3 linked regions of the Homo sapiens genome follow. The protein of the gene in region 2 interacts with the protein of the main gene of each other region in a pairwise test. Each region holds a gene or a part of one and is shown on either strand. Other genes may lie near its edges. The genes, in order: PAX2, MRC2 and PPM1D.

The links.
Region 1: the proteins of MRC2 (region 2) and PAX2 interact in a two-hybrid assay, tested with the Homo sapiens proteins (one large-scale study listed by BioGRID and IntAct).
Region 3: the proteins of MRC2 (region 2) and PPM1D interact in a two-hybrid assay, tested with the Homo sapiens proteins (one large-scale study listed by BioGRID and IntAct).

What each region holds. Positions count from the first base shown.
Region 1 is NC_000010.11:100,748,575-100,752,221, forward strand, and holds part of PAX2 (paired box protein Pax-2), read left to right. Parts: intron 1-1,171; coding exon 1,172-1,340; intron 1,341-2,119; coding exon 2,120-2,317; intron 2,318-3,647. UniProt on the Homo sapiens protein: Transcription factor that may have a role in kidney cell differentiation. Has a critical role in the development of the urogenital tract, the eyes, and the CNS.
Region 2 is NC_000017.11:62,690,049-62,693,695, reverse strand, and holds the end of MRC2 (C-type mannose receptor 2 precursor), read right to left. Parts: coding exon 3,634-3,647; intron 3,541-3,633; coding exon 3,391-3,540; intron 3,055-3,390; coding exon 2,935-3,054; intron 2,748-2,934; coding exon 2,568-2,747; intron 1,585-2,567; coding exon 1,558-1,584; intron 1,466-1,557; coding exon 1,245-1,465; 3' UTR 99-1,244; downstream 1-98. UniProt on the Homo sapiens protein: May play a role as endocytotic lectin receptor displaying calcium-dependent lectin activity. Internalizes glycosylated ligands from the extracellular space for release in an endosomal compartment via clathrin-mediated endocytosis.
Region 3 is NC_000017.11:60,606,579-60,610,225, reverse strand, and holds part of PPM1D (protein phosphatase 1D), read right to left. Parts: intron 1-3,647. UniProt on the Homo sapiens protein: Involved in the negative regulation of p53 expression. Required for the relief of p53-dependent checkpoint mediated cell cycle arrest.

The sequences.
Region 1 (3,647 bases), on a different chromosome or scaffold from region 2:
TCAGTACCTGCGGCTACGGGTTGATCGCTCTGGGTGCAGGATTTCTAGACTGCTGTAGGCCAGGGAGAATGGGGCACAGGAAGCACCCTCAGGCCTGGCACCCAGTGGCCGCCTCGGTTCCGAGATCGGGAGCCCGCGCTGGAGCCGGGTTGGAAACCCCGTGCCCTTCTCTTGGCCGAAAGAGCAAAAGCCCGAGCCGCTCGGTTTCCTGGGGGGGCTGCCGAGGTCTGAGGGGTCAAAGGGACTCGAGTCGGGTTTGGGTCGGCTACACAGGGCGCCCCGAGAGTTATTAACTCGCCAGCGAGGCCTATGCCGTGCCACCTGGGCGAGACGGTGGGCCCCAACCAGGCTCTGCGAGGCGCGGCAGGCAGGCGAGCCCAAGCAGCCGGCATTCTCTGCCTGCTGCCTGGAGCCGCTCTGCCTCCCTGTCTCTGAGCGCAGCAGACCCCGGGCCCCTGCCTCATCCGCCTTCCTTGCTCTACTTCAGATACTAAGGAGGTGAAAGAGAGATACGGTCCCCCTACAGATAAATAACATTAGAAAAACTTCCCATCAAAAACAAACAACACAGGAAAGAGGTAGAAAAATTCCGATTACAATTTAATACTTTTTAAAGAAGAGGCAGAGAGCAAAGGGGGGTGTGTGTGTCAGGCACTTATCCCCTGTCTGTGCTAGGAGCTCGGATAAACAGTCAGCCGAGCCTCGACGCCCCCAAATCGTCCGCCTCCAAGCCCCGCACGCGCGGACAGCTCCCGGGTTGCCTGCGGCGCAGGCGGGATGCTGCTTCGCACTAGTCCAGTCCTCTGCCAGGCCCTTCCTCTCCTCGCTTTCTTACGCCCTTTCCGCTGGCATGAATTCCCCTTTGGCATTTTCTCCCCTCTCCCCTCTTTTCTGTCATCTGGTTTCTCTCCAGTCCCCCCTTTGCTTTCTACCTTGCGTCGCAAGGCCTGAGTCGCCCTCTCGCCCAGCCCCCAGTCTTCAGCCCAGCGTCTGTGCTTCCAGTCCCCACTCCTCCGCGTGGTCGTGGAGGTCCACCACCTTTCTTCTCAAGCTCGGGAACATGCCCTTCCGCCCTGCCTGCTTCCTTCGCCCGTCCCGGGCCGCGGACCCTGACTAATGGCCGGTCCCTGCTGTGTGTGGGGTGTTGTGTTTTTTTCTTGTCTCTCCCCAGCAGGGCACGGGGGTGTGAACCAGCTCGGGGGGGTGTTTGTGAACGGCCGGCCCCTACCCGACGTGGTGAGGCAGCGCATCGTGGAGCTGGCCCACCAGGGTGTGCGGCCCTGTGACATCTCCCGGCAGCTGCGGGTCAGCCACGGCTGTGTCAGCAAAATCCTGGGCAGGTGAGGGCTTCGCAGCTGTCCCGGGAGACGCCTTGCCTACTTCCCCGGCCAGCCCTGGGTCTCCAGCTGGAGGACGTGGCTAAAAGTCCAGCGTGCCAAGCCAGAGAGGGAGATCCCCAAAGGGGTCTGGAGAGGTGCTCCTTTTGGAGAGAGTGTTCAGATGGTGGCTGAAGACCCAGGAGCGAGGGTGGCGCAGTGTCACCCAGTGCTTGCCCTGCCCCTGGTCCCTGGTGAGAAGGCAGCCCGTTTCTGGCTTCAGAAAGGGAAGGATGACTTTCCTAATGGAGTTAAGGCAGATACGGGGTGGGAGACATTAGAGGAATGGGGGGGGAGTGAAAATGGGTCCCCGAGAGGAGAAGCAGCAGCATTTGGGAGGCAGAAGGAGGGTCCTGGTTCCCACAGATGCTCTGTGCCCAGTAGGAAAGGGCTCGAGGTGGTGCCTCAACCCTGGCCTCCCAGAGACCTTGCAGCGCTGTTCGTTTTGCTCTTCCCAAGTGAAAGGCTGGGCTTTCACTCCCACGGGTGCCTATTTGGGCTGGTGCGAACCCAGCCCCTGGTGTGGCCGTCTCCCTGGAGGGATGGTACCCCTTGTCCTCCTACTCCGCGGCGCTCCTCCTAGCCAGGCACCCTCAGGAAGTCAGCTCAGCCACACTGGGCCTTTTCCCTCCACTCCGCTGCCTCGGCCGGGCAGGAGAGTGGCTCAGCAGCTCTGGAACCTGCAGCCCCCCTGCCCCGCCACAGTCCGCTTCTGGCTGACCCCGCCGGCTTTCCCGGCGCAGGTACTACGAGACCGGCAGCATCAAGCCGGGTGTGATCGGTGGCTCCAAGCCCAAAGTGGCGACGCCCAAAGTGGTGGACAAGATTGCTGAATACAAACGACAGAACCCGACTATGTTCGCCTGGGAGATTCGAGACCGGCTCCTGGCCGAGGGCATCTGTGACAATGACACAGTGCCCAGCGTCTCTTCCATCAACAGGTGAGCAAGCCACCCGGGTTTTCAGGGCTGGACTCCAGCTCCTGGCTCCTGCCTGCAGGGGTGTCCCACGCCCAGTCTCTGCTCTTTGTCCAGCCTCTGCCCTTTCTCCCTGCTTCCAGCCCCAAATCCTTCTGTCAGAGAAAGGGAACCTGTGAGGCAGAGAGTTAGACAGACAGACAGGGCTGTCTGCAGTTCAGGGCTGGGTATTCCCTGCCAGGCTTCTCCCGCCGGCGTCCTGGAAATGAATCCAAGTGTTTGTGGTAATTAAGACTCCAAGATTACGAGCATCCAGCCTTGGGATCTTGAGACAATCACAGCCTGCAGCCGGAGCCTTTAAAATGACCAGTGTCTATTCATCCCTCCAAACAGACTGGCCTTTCTAAAGGCTGCTCCTTCCCCAGGGGCCGCCGCTTGTCCTGGCTCCCTCACCCTCCCTGCCAACTCCCACAAAGCTCACCTCCCAGGAGTCTGGTCTTGCTAGCCAGCTCCACACAAATTTCTGGCCTGTAGGCACTGGGATCCGGGCTTGCAGAACAAATGCCAACCACCAGCCAGCAACTGGCAGGGAGTAGAGGAGCTGGACAAGGAGGGAGTGCCAAGCAGGGAGGGAGAACTCCAGACTTTGAGACTGAACCTTGGGTGATACCCTCAACCACCTAAGGTGCCTGTCTCCAGGCTGAAGTCTTTGCACTGATGACAGGCTCACACACGTGAGGACAGCACAGGGCTGAGTCAGCTTGACGTGTAGGATATTTAGGTCTCCTGGTCTCCAAACCCCTCCAGTGTGCTCTCGGGGAGAACACATGTGCACACTCCATGCATGTCCACCCTAGCCAGTGTGCCAATATGCCTATCTGTGGTAGCTACAGAACATACAAGCAGCACTGGGCTCAGGAACCCAGGCTGGTTTCAAGATCACAGAACTGTACAAACTGACAGTTGTTCACAGAGTCCCTGCACAAGTCACACACCAGCCTTGGCCCCCCATTTTGAGACACCCCAAAATGAAAAGAGGGCTAAGCAGTTCATACCTTTGTTATTTTTTGCATTCTTCATAAGCTCATTATCAGGGCAACTAATAATTCACATGGTGCCTTATTCTGAAATTGGCATCACATATAAAGGATTTTTTAAATATTTTGCAAATGATATGGAATTATCCCAAATCATCCTGAAAACAGCAGGTAAAATTAGCTGGTAGAATGTACCTTGGCTAAAGAAGATTCCCTCTGCCACACTCGTGCTGTAATGTACTGCGAGGCGACCCCAGAAATTATCCCAGTGTGTGCCATCTGTATTAAAATGGTTATTCAGTTATGAACAGGGTAAC
Region 2 (3,647 bases):
AGCTGCAGAAAACACCTGTGGTGCAAGCTCCAAAACAACAGTTATCTCCGAAGGGACAGACGTGAAGAAGCAGGCTCACCACAGGACAAGGCAGAACCTTCTCTTTCAAGCCTCTTAAAGGTGTTTTATTTGTTTGCTTTTCTTTTTTCCTTTTTTTTTAAAAACAATAATGGCACATTTAAAAAATCAACTACAGAGAAAGGGCCATGTCTTCGAGTCCATGTTCACATTGTCCCACGCTGTCGCACCAGGATGGGCCGCATACTTTGTCCTGGCTGGGACTGTGGCCTCTTGGAAGGGTACTGGGCCACTCCAGGGCTCGGGTGCTGCTCCTCCTGGATCCACTAGAGGGTGAACTCTGGGCCCTCCCAGACTCCTGCTCCTCTGGGGCCCCCAGGACTCTGGCAACCCTTCCCCTTGCTCCAAACCAGAGCCAGGAGCTGGAGATGTTAGGGAACTTATTTTGGTCCCCACAGGGGACTCTTCCAGGGGCAGAGCCCTCCCCCGCCCGGCAGGAGATGACATCCCAGCCCGGCCCAGCTCCCACCCTGGGAGGTTGGGGTGTCTCTCCCCAGTCTTATCTCCAGCCCAGCAGACACCACACCCGTGCCCTGGTTCTCAGGCCCAACCCACCTAGGCCCCTCCTGCCACGCCCCACAGCCACCCCAGCAGGCACAGGAGTGATGGATGCTCAGCCCCCTCAGCTGACCCTCATCAGGAACAAGAGGGCTCCCCAATCCCCAGGGCCCGGCTCAGAAGGAAGGGGTGGGAGAGAAGGGGCGAGAGGGAGCAGGGTGAGGGGCACAGAGCTGAGGCTGCCAGGTGGGAAGAGAGACACAACAGATCTGCCCGAGGGGACAGGGGAGGCTCCTCGGGCTCTGCAAAGAAGGGGGTCCTGGGGCGCGGATCAACAGGCCTGGGCCGGGGGCTCTGGGGAGAAAGAGGCTCTCGTTCCCCCTCCCATCCTACCTCTGGTTCCTGTGGGGGCACAGGACCAGGTGACAAGACCTCAGGCCCCCCCAGAAAGGGAAACGCCACGCTGCACTCAGCTGGGTCTCAGCCCAGCCCTTGTGGGAGGGTGGCACCCCACCAGCCCAGGCTCTGCCCAGCTCCGGCTCCCAACAGCGACTCCCAAGGGCACCCTTCCATAGGCCAACTGGACAGGCAGCTGGTGGGGGGCCAGACTGACCCAGGGCCCCAGCTCCCCAGCTCCTCCCGCCCTGGCCCTGCCCACGCGCCTGGCTCTATTCTTGTTGCTCATTCATTTCCATGTCTGACACCAGGATGTTCTTCTCAGTGGCCTCGGTGGGGCTGGAGCTGCTGCGGCTGTAGCGGGCACCCTCAAAGGCCCCGCGCTCGATGCTCTGGCGCCTCCGGTAAAGGATGAGGGCTGCGGTCAGCAAGGCCAGGAGCAGCAGCACCGCCATCAGCACCACCACCAGGGCCGCTGGGTTCTCTGGAAGCGCTGCCAAGGCGAGTGGGCGTGAAAGGCCAAGTGGGCGTTAGGCCCAGCAGTGCTTCCTGCCTGCCCACCTGGGGGCATTGCCTTTCACTCACCTGATGGGGAGAAGCTGCTCTGCTCAGCTGTGGGCAAGAGGAGGGGGCCAGTTAATAATAGCAGTGATCATCGTAATAATCACTTAAGTAAACATACAAAGCACACAGGCCTGGGCCGGGAGGTCTGGGGAGAAAGAGGCTCTAGTTCCCCCTCCCATCCTACCTCTGGTTACTGTGGGGGCACAGGCCCAAGAGACAAGACTTCAGGTTCCCCCAGAAAGGGAAAACGCCATGCTGCACTCAGCTAGGTCTCAGCCCAGCCCTCGTGGGAGGCCTGGGTGTCAGCCCCTTCCCTAACTCACCTCATCTTTACTAGCTTCACTAGCACTCTAGGAGGTCGGGACTTTTTTTTTTTTTTTTTTTTTTTGGAGACAGGGTCTTGCTGTGTTGCCCAGGCTGGAATGCAGTGGTGCGATCTCGGCTCACTGCAGCCTCCACCTCCACGGTTGAAGCAATTCACATGCCTCAGCCTCCTAAGTAGCTGGGACTACAGGCATGTGCTACCACGCCCAGCTAATTTTTGTACTTTTTGGTAGAGACGGGGTTTCACCATGTTGGCCAGGCTGGTCTTGAACCCCTGACCTCAAGTGATCCGCCCACCTCAGCCTCCCAAAGTGCTGGGATTACAGGCATGAGCCACCACATCAGTCTGGAACTACTATTATTCCCATTTTACATACGAGGAAACTGAGGCCACAGACTCTGCCCAAGGTCACACCACTGATAAGTGACATGGCCAGGACTTGAACTCTGTCCATGCCCTTGACCACTACAAAGTGACAGGGGGTTGCTGACCCCCGAGCCTTGTGGTCTAGTTTGGATGATAAGTTTCAGGTCCAGTCCATCCCACTGACTAATTTATCCCGGGGGTCCCAGCTGCCCGCAGTCCGTTCTGTTCAGGCCTTCCCATCGGCTGTGCCCCCTGCAGTTGTGAAGCAGCCCCCAGCCCCAGCCCAGGACCAGCGGCACGGGGTGGAAGGAGGCTGAGCGTGGGCCTGCCCGGCGCTCACCACGAGGAAGCTTGCAGACGACACCCATGGTGATGTTGGTGCAAGCGCCGGGGCGCCATAGCCCGCTGTTGCTCTGAATCCAGTAGCAGCTGTTGTGGCTCAGCATGCTGGGGCCCAAGCCCGGGGGCCCCCAGTTGGAGTAGTTCACAGCTGTGTTGTCCTGCCAGACCAGAGTGCCTCCTGCAGGAAAGAAGGCACTGAGGGAGCAGGGACAAGGTGGGGCAGGAGTAGGTGGAGGAGAGCAGGTGTGTTCTAGAACCGACTCCCTGTCCCCCGACAAGCCCCAGGACAAGGCTCAGGGCAAAGTGGAGGGCAGCCCCTTACAGCCTGAGGCTTGACCTCTCCACCCCACACACAGGGCACCCACCTTTGGGGTTGAAGTTCATGCCCAGCCAGGCGCCCCGACTCTGGCCCTCATAGCTCTGCAGGTGCTCCCAGACAAACACATTCTCCATCTCATCCAGGATAGACAGGACGGCCCCACCCGCTGGATGCAAAGAAGGCCCACGTCAGGGCGGATGGGTCTCCGGGGGGGGCAGAGTCCCCCAGAGCTGCTCCAGCCCTCTTCTCTGCAGCCTGAGTAGAGGATGGTGTGGAGTCTGTGGATTCATGTGTGTGTGTGTGCACATGTGCAAGTGTGTGGGGGGGCAGCATATGCACATATAGTGTCATGTATGGTCTCCACATGTGAGAGCACGAGGGCATCTTGTGTAAGTGCTGCCTATGGGTAGAGAGCAGTGTGGGGATGTACTCATGGGTCTGAGTGCCCACGAGAGGAGGTGCCACCTGCCCGCCATGTGTGGGCTCTGGCCTGGTCACCCACCTCTCTGGCAGCGCTGTCGCGCCTCCTTGTGGCCCAGCAGCAGCTCCATGTGGAAAGAATAGCAGTGCTCCCGGAAGGGAATCCACGCGGAGTCTGCCAGTCCCTGGGGACAGCTGCCATGGTAGCTTATTCTTCGGGGAGGAGGGGGCCCTGTGGGGGTACAGGATTAAGAAGTGGCTCAGCACCCTCCCCGGGGCCACCGACAGCTTGCCCATGCCCCCGCCCTGGCAGGTGGGCACTCACCACTGCTAACCCCA
Region 3 (3,647 bases), 2.1 Mb from region 2:
CTATGTTTTTTCCTATACGTACATACATATCTTTTTTTTTTTTTTTTTTGAGACAGTCTCACTCTATTGCTAGGTTGGAGTGCAGTGGCACGATCTCGGCTCACTGCAATCTCCACCTCCCAGGTTCAAGCAATTCCCCTGCCTCAGCCGCCTGAGTAGCTGCGACTACAGGTGCGCACCACCATGCCCGGCTAGTTTTTTGTATTTTAGTAGAGACAGGGTTTCACCATGTTGGCCAGGATGGTCTTGATCTCCTGACCTCATGATCCGCCCACCTCTGCCTCCCAAAGGGCTGGGATTACAGGCGTGAGCCACCGTGCTTGGCTCCTATACATACGTATCTATGATAAAATGTAATTTATAAATTAGGCACAGTAAGAAATTAACAACATTAATAAAATAAAACAAGTATAACAATATGCCAGCATTACTACTCTTGCTCTTTGGGTCCATTATTAAGTAAAATAAGAGTCACTTGAACATAAACACTGCAATACCATAAGAGTTGATCCGATAACCACACCCAAGATGGCTACTAAGTGACTAACAAGCTACTAAGTGACTAACAGGTAGGTAGCATATACAGCGTAGATATGCTGGGCAAAGAAATGATTAACATCCAGGGCTGACACAGTGGGACGAGACAAGATTTCATCATGCTACTCCCAACAGCACACAAGTTAAACTTACAAATTGTTTATTTCTAGAATTTTATATTTAATATTTCAACATTGAACAAAGTTAACAAACTGCAGAAAGTGAAACCAACACATAAGGGATGACAATAGCATACATATAGTAAGATGTCATATATAAGTTATAAAAACCATGCAGGCTGGGCACGGTGGCTCACACCTGTAATCCTAGCACTTTGGGAGGCCAAGGCGGGTGGATCACGAGGTCAGGAGTTCGAGACCAGCCTGGCCAACATGGTGAAACCCCATCTCTACTAAAAATACAAAAAATTAGCTGGGCGTGGTAGTGCGCGCCTGTAATTCCAGCTACTGGGGAGGCTGAGGTAGGAGAATCGCTTGAATCCAGGAGGCGGAGGTTGCGGTGAGCCGAGATCACGCCATTGCACTCCAGCCCGGGAGATTAAGCAAGACTCTGTCTTAAAAAACAAACAAACAAACAAAATACAAAATGTACTGTATATTGGTTAAAGATATACATAATAAAGGCCGGGCGCGGTGGCTCACGCCTGTAATCCCAGCACTTTGGGAGGCCGAGGAGGGCACATCACGAGGTCAGGAGATCGAGACCATCCTGGCTAACACGGTGAAACCCCGTCTCTACTAAAAATACAAAAAATTAGCCGGGCGTGGTGGCGGGCGCCTGTAGTCCCAGCCACTCGGGAGGCTGAGGCAGGAGAATGGTGTGAACCCAGGAGGCAGAGCTTGCAGTGAGCCAAGATAGCGCCACTGCACTCCAGCCTGGGCGACAGAGCGAGACTCTGTGTCAAAAAAAAAAAAAGATATACCTAATAAAATTATAAAAAAAATAGTGAGGATGATAAACACTGAATATAGAAGCAGTTGCCCCTCATGGGGAGTGAAAAAGATGTAATATGACACAGAGAGAAGGGGCTTAACTATACTGGTAATGTTTTATTATTTTATTTATTTATTTATTGTTGAGACAGAATCTCGCTCTGTTGCCAGGCTGGAGTGCAGTGTCGTTGATCTCAGCTCACTGTAGCTGGGACTACCAGCGCATGCCACCACACCCAGCTAATTTTTTGTATTTTTAGTAAAAACTGGGTTTCATCAGGTTCTTGACCTCATGATCTGCCTGCCTCGGCCTCCCAAAGTGCTGGGATTACAGGCGTGAGCCACCATGCCCGGCCTGGTAATGTTTTATTTTTTAAGCTGAGTTATGGATGGGTGTTTGTTTAATCATTTTACATCTTTTTGAATATTTCATAATATAAAGATGCAAAGAAATCTAGTTTTACCTGCATAATGTAGAAACTAATGAGAATTTAAATTGCTTCTATTTCTCTAAGTGATATCAATTCTGGAGAGACTACCTAATAAGGATCAAAAGTAATGACTGATAATGAAAATAGAAAAAATAAATTTGAACTTGATAAGTAATATGGCACACAACTCTTTCAGAACGTATAATTTATGAGAAGGTGAAGATCCTTTATGATGAAAAAATGCGAACAACCAACATAAAACAAGATACACATTTAAAATTCTATAGTTTAAGAGGTTTCTCCAAATTCAATTCTCTCTCCCCACTTTGGTTTCTTTCCATTTTAAATTAAAGTAATGCCAAATCTAGAACCAACAATTTATGTTAAGATTAACTTCTTCACGATTTCCTTGGTCATACTCTTTTAAAATGAATGCTCTAAATCTTCAGTCCAAGTTAACAAATGAAACTTTTGTATTTCATCTTCCTTTACAAATACTGTGGCCAATTCCCTGTAATCACACCAGAGATCACCCTTTGCAGAATGTCATCTTTCTATTGACTCTATTGATAAGACTATGACACAGAGCTAAAAGCTGCACTTCATTCACCATCTTCTTTAAACTATCAAAAGAAGGGACAATGAAAACATTATTTCCAATAAGTAAACCTAAAAAAGCCTATACAAACTTTAAAACTTATTTTTGCCAGGTGCGGTGGCTCACGCCTGTAATCCCAACACTTTGGGAGCCTGAGGCAGGTGGATCACTTGAGGTCGGGAGTTCAAGACCAGCCTGACCAACATGGAGAAACCCCAGAGACAGAGTCTCACTTCTTTTCTACTGAAAATACAAAATTAGCTGAGTGTGGTGGCACATGCGTGTAATCCCAGTTACTCGGGAAGCTGAGGCAGGAGAATCGCTTGAACCCGGGAGGTGGAGGTTGCAGTGAGCTGAGATCGCACCATTGCACTCCAGCCTGGGCAACAAGAGCAAAACTCCGTCTCAAAAATAAAACAAAACAAAACAAACAAAAAAACTTATTTCTTAGAAGGCAAGCATAATAAAAGGGCAGTAAACATATATATGTGAGTATAAATTAGGCATAACCTAAAACTTATGATCATGAATAAAGAAAAAAGAAAAATAATGACCTTTTAATAAAGAATATATTCAGGCCTGGATGTGGTGGCTTATGCCTGTAATAACAGCATTTTGGGAGGCCAAGCTGGGAAGACTTCTTGAACCCAGGGTAAGGAACCACCCTGGGCAACATGGCAAGACCCTGTCTCTATAAAAAAAAAAAATTAAAAAAAAAAATTAGCTGGGCGCATGCCTGTAGTCTCAGCTACTTTGCAGGCACATGCCTGTAGTCTCAGCTACTTCAGAGGCTGAGGCAGGAGGATCCCTTGAGCCAAGGAAGTCAAGGCTGCAGGGACCTTTGATCATGCCATTACACTCCAGCCTGGACAACAGAGCAAGACCCTGTCACACACACAAAAAAAGAATATATTTATATACTCTTTCATTCCATACTGTATTTACCAAATCTCCCTACCTCAAGACAAAAATAAGCCATTTAAAAAATTTTCCTTTGTAAATTTGGGAGGCGTACACATCATTAGAAAGACAAGAGAGGTCAAGCTTAACACCAAATAATTCAAGAAGGGCTCAGTAACATAGAAAAGCTATAATTTTAAAATGTAAGACAGTCCACATTCATCAGGA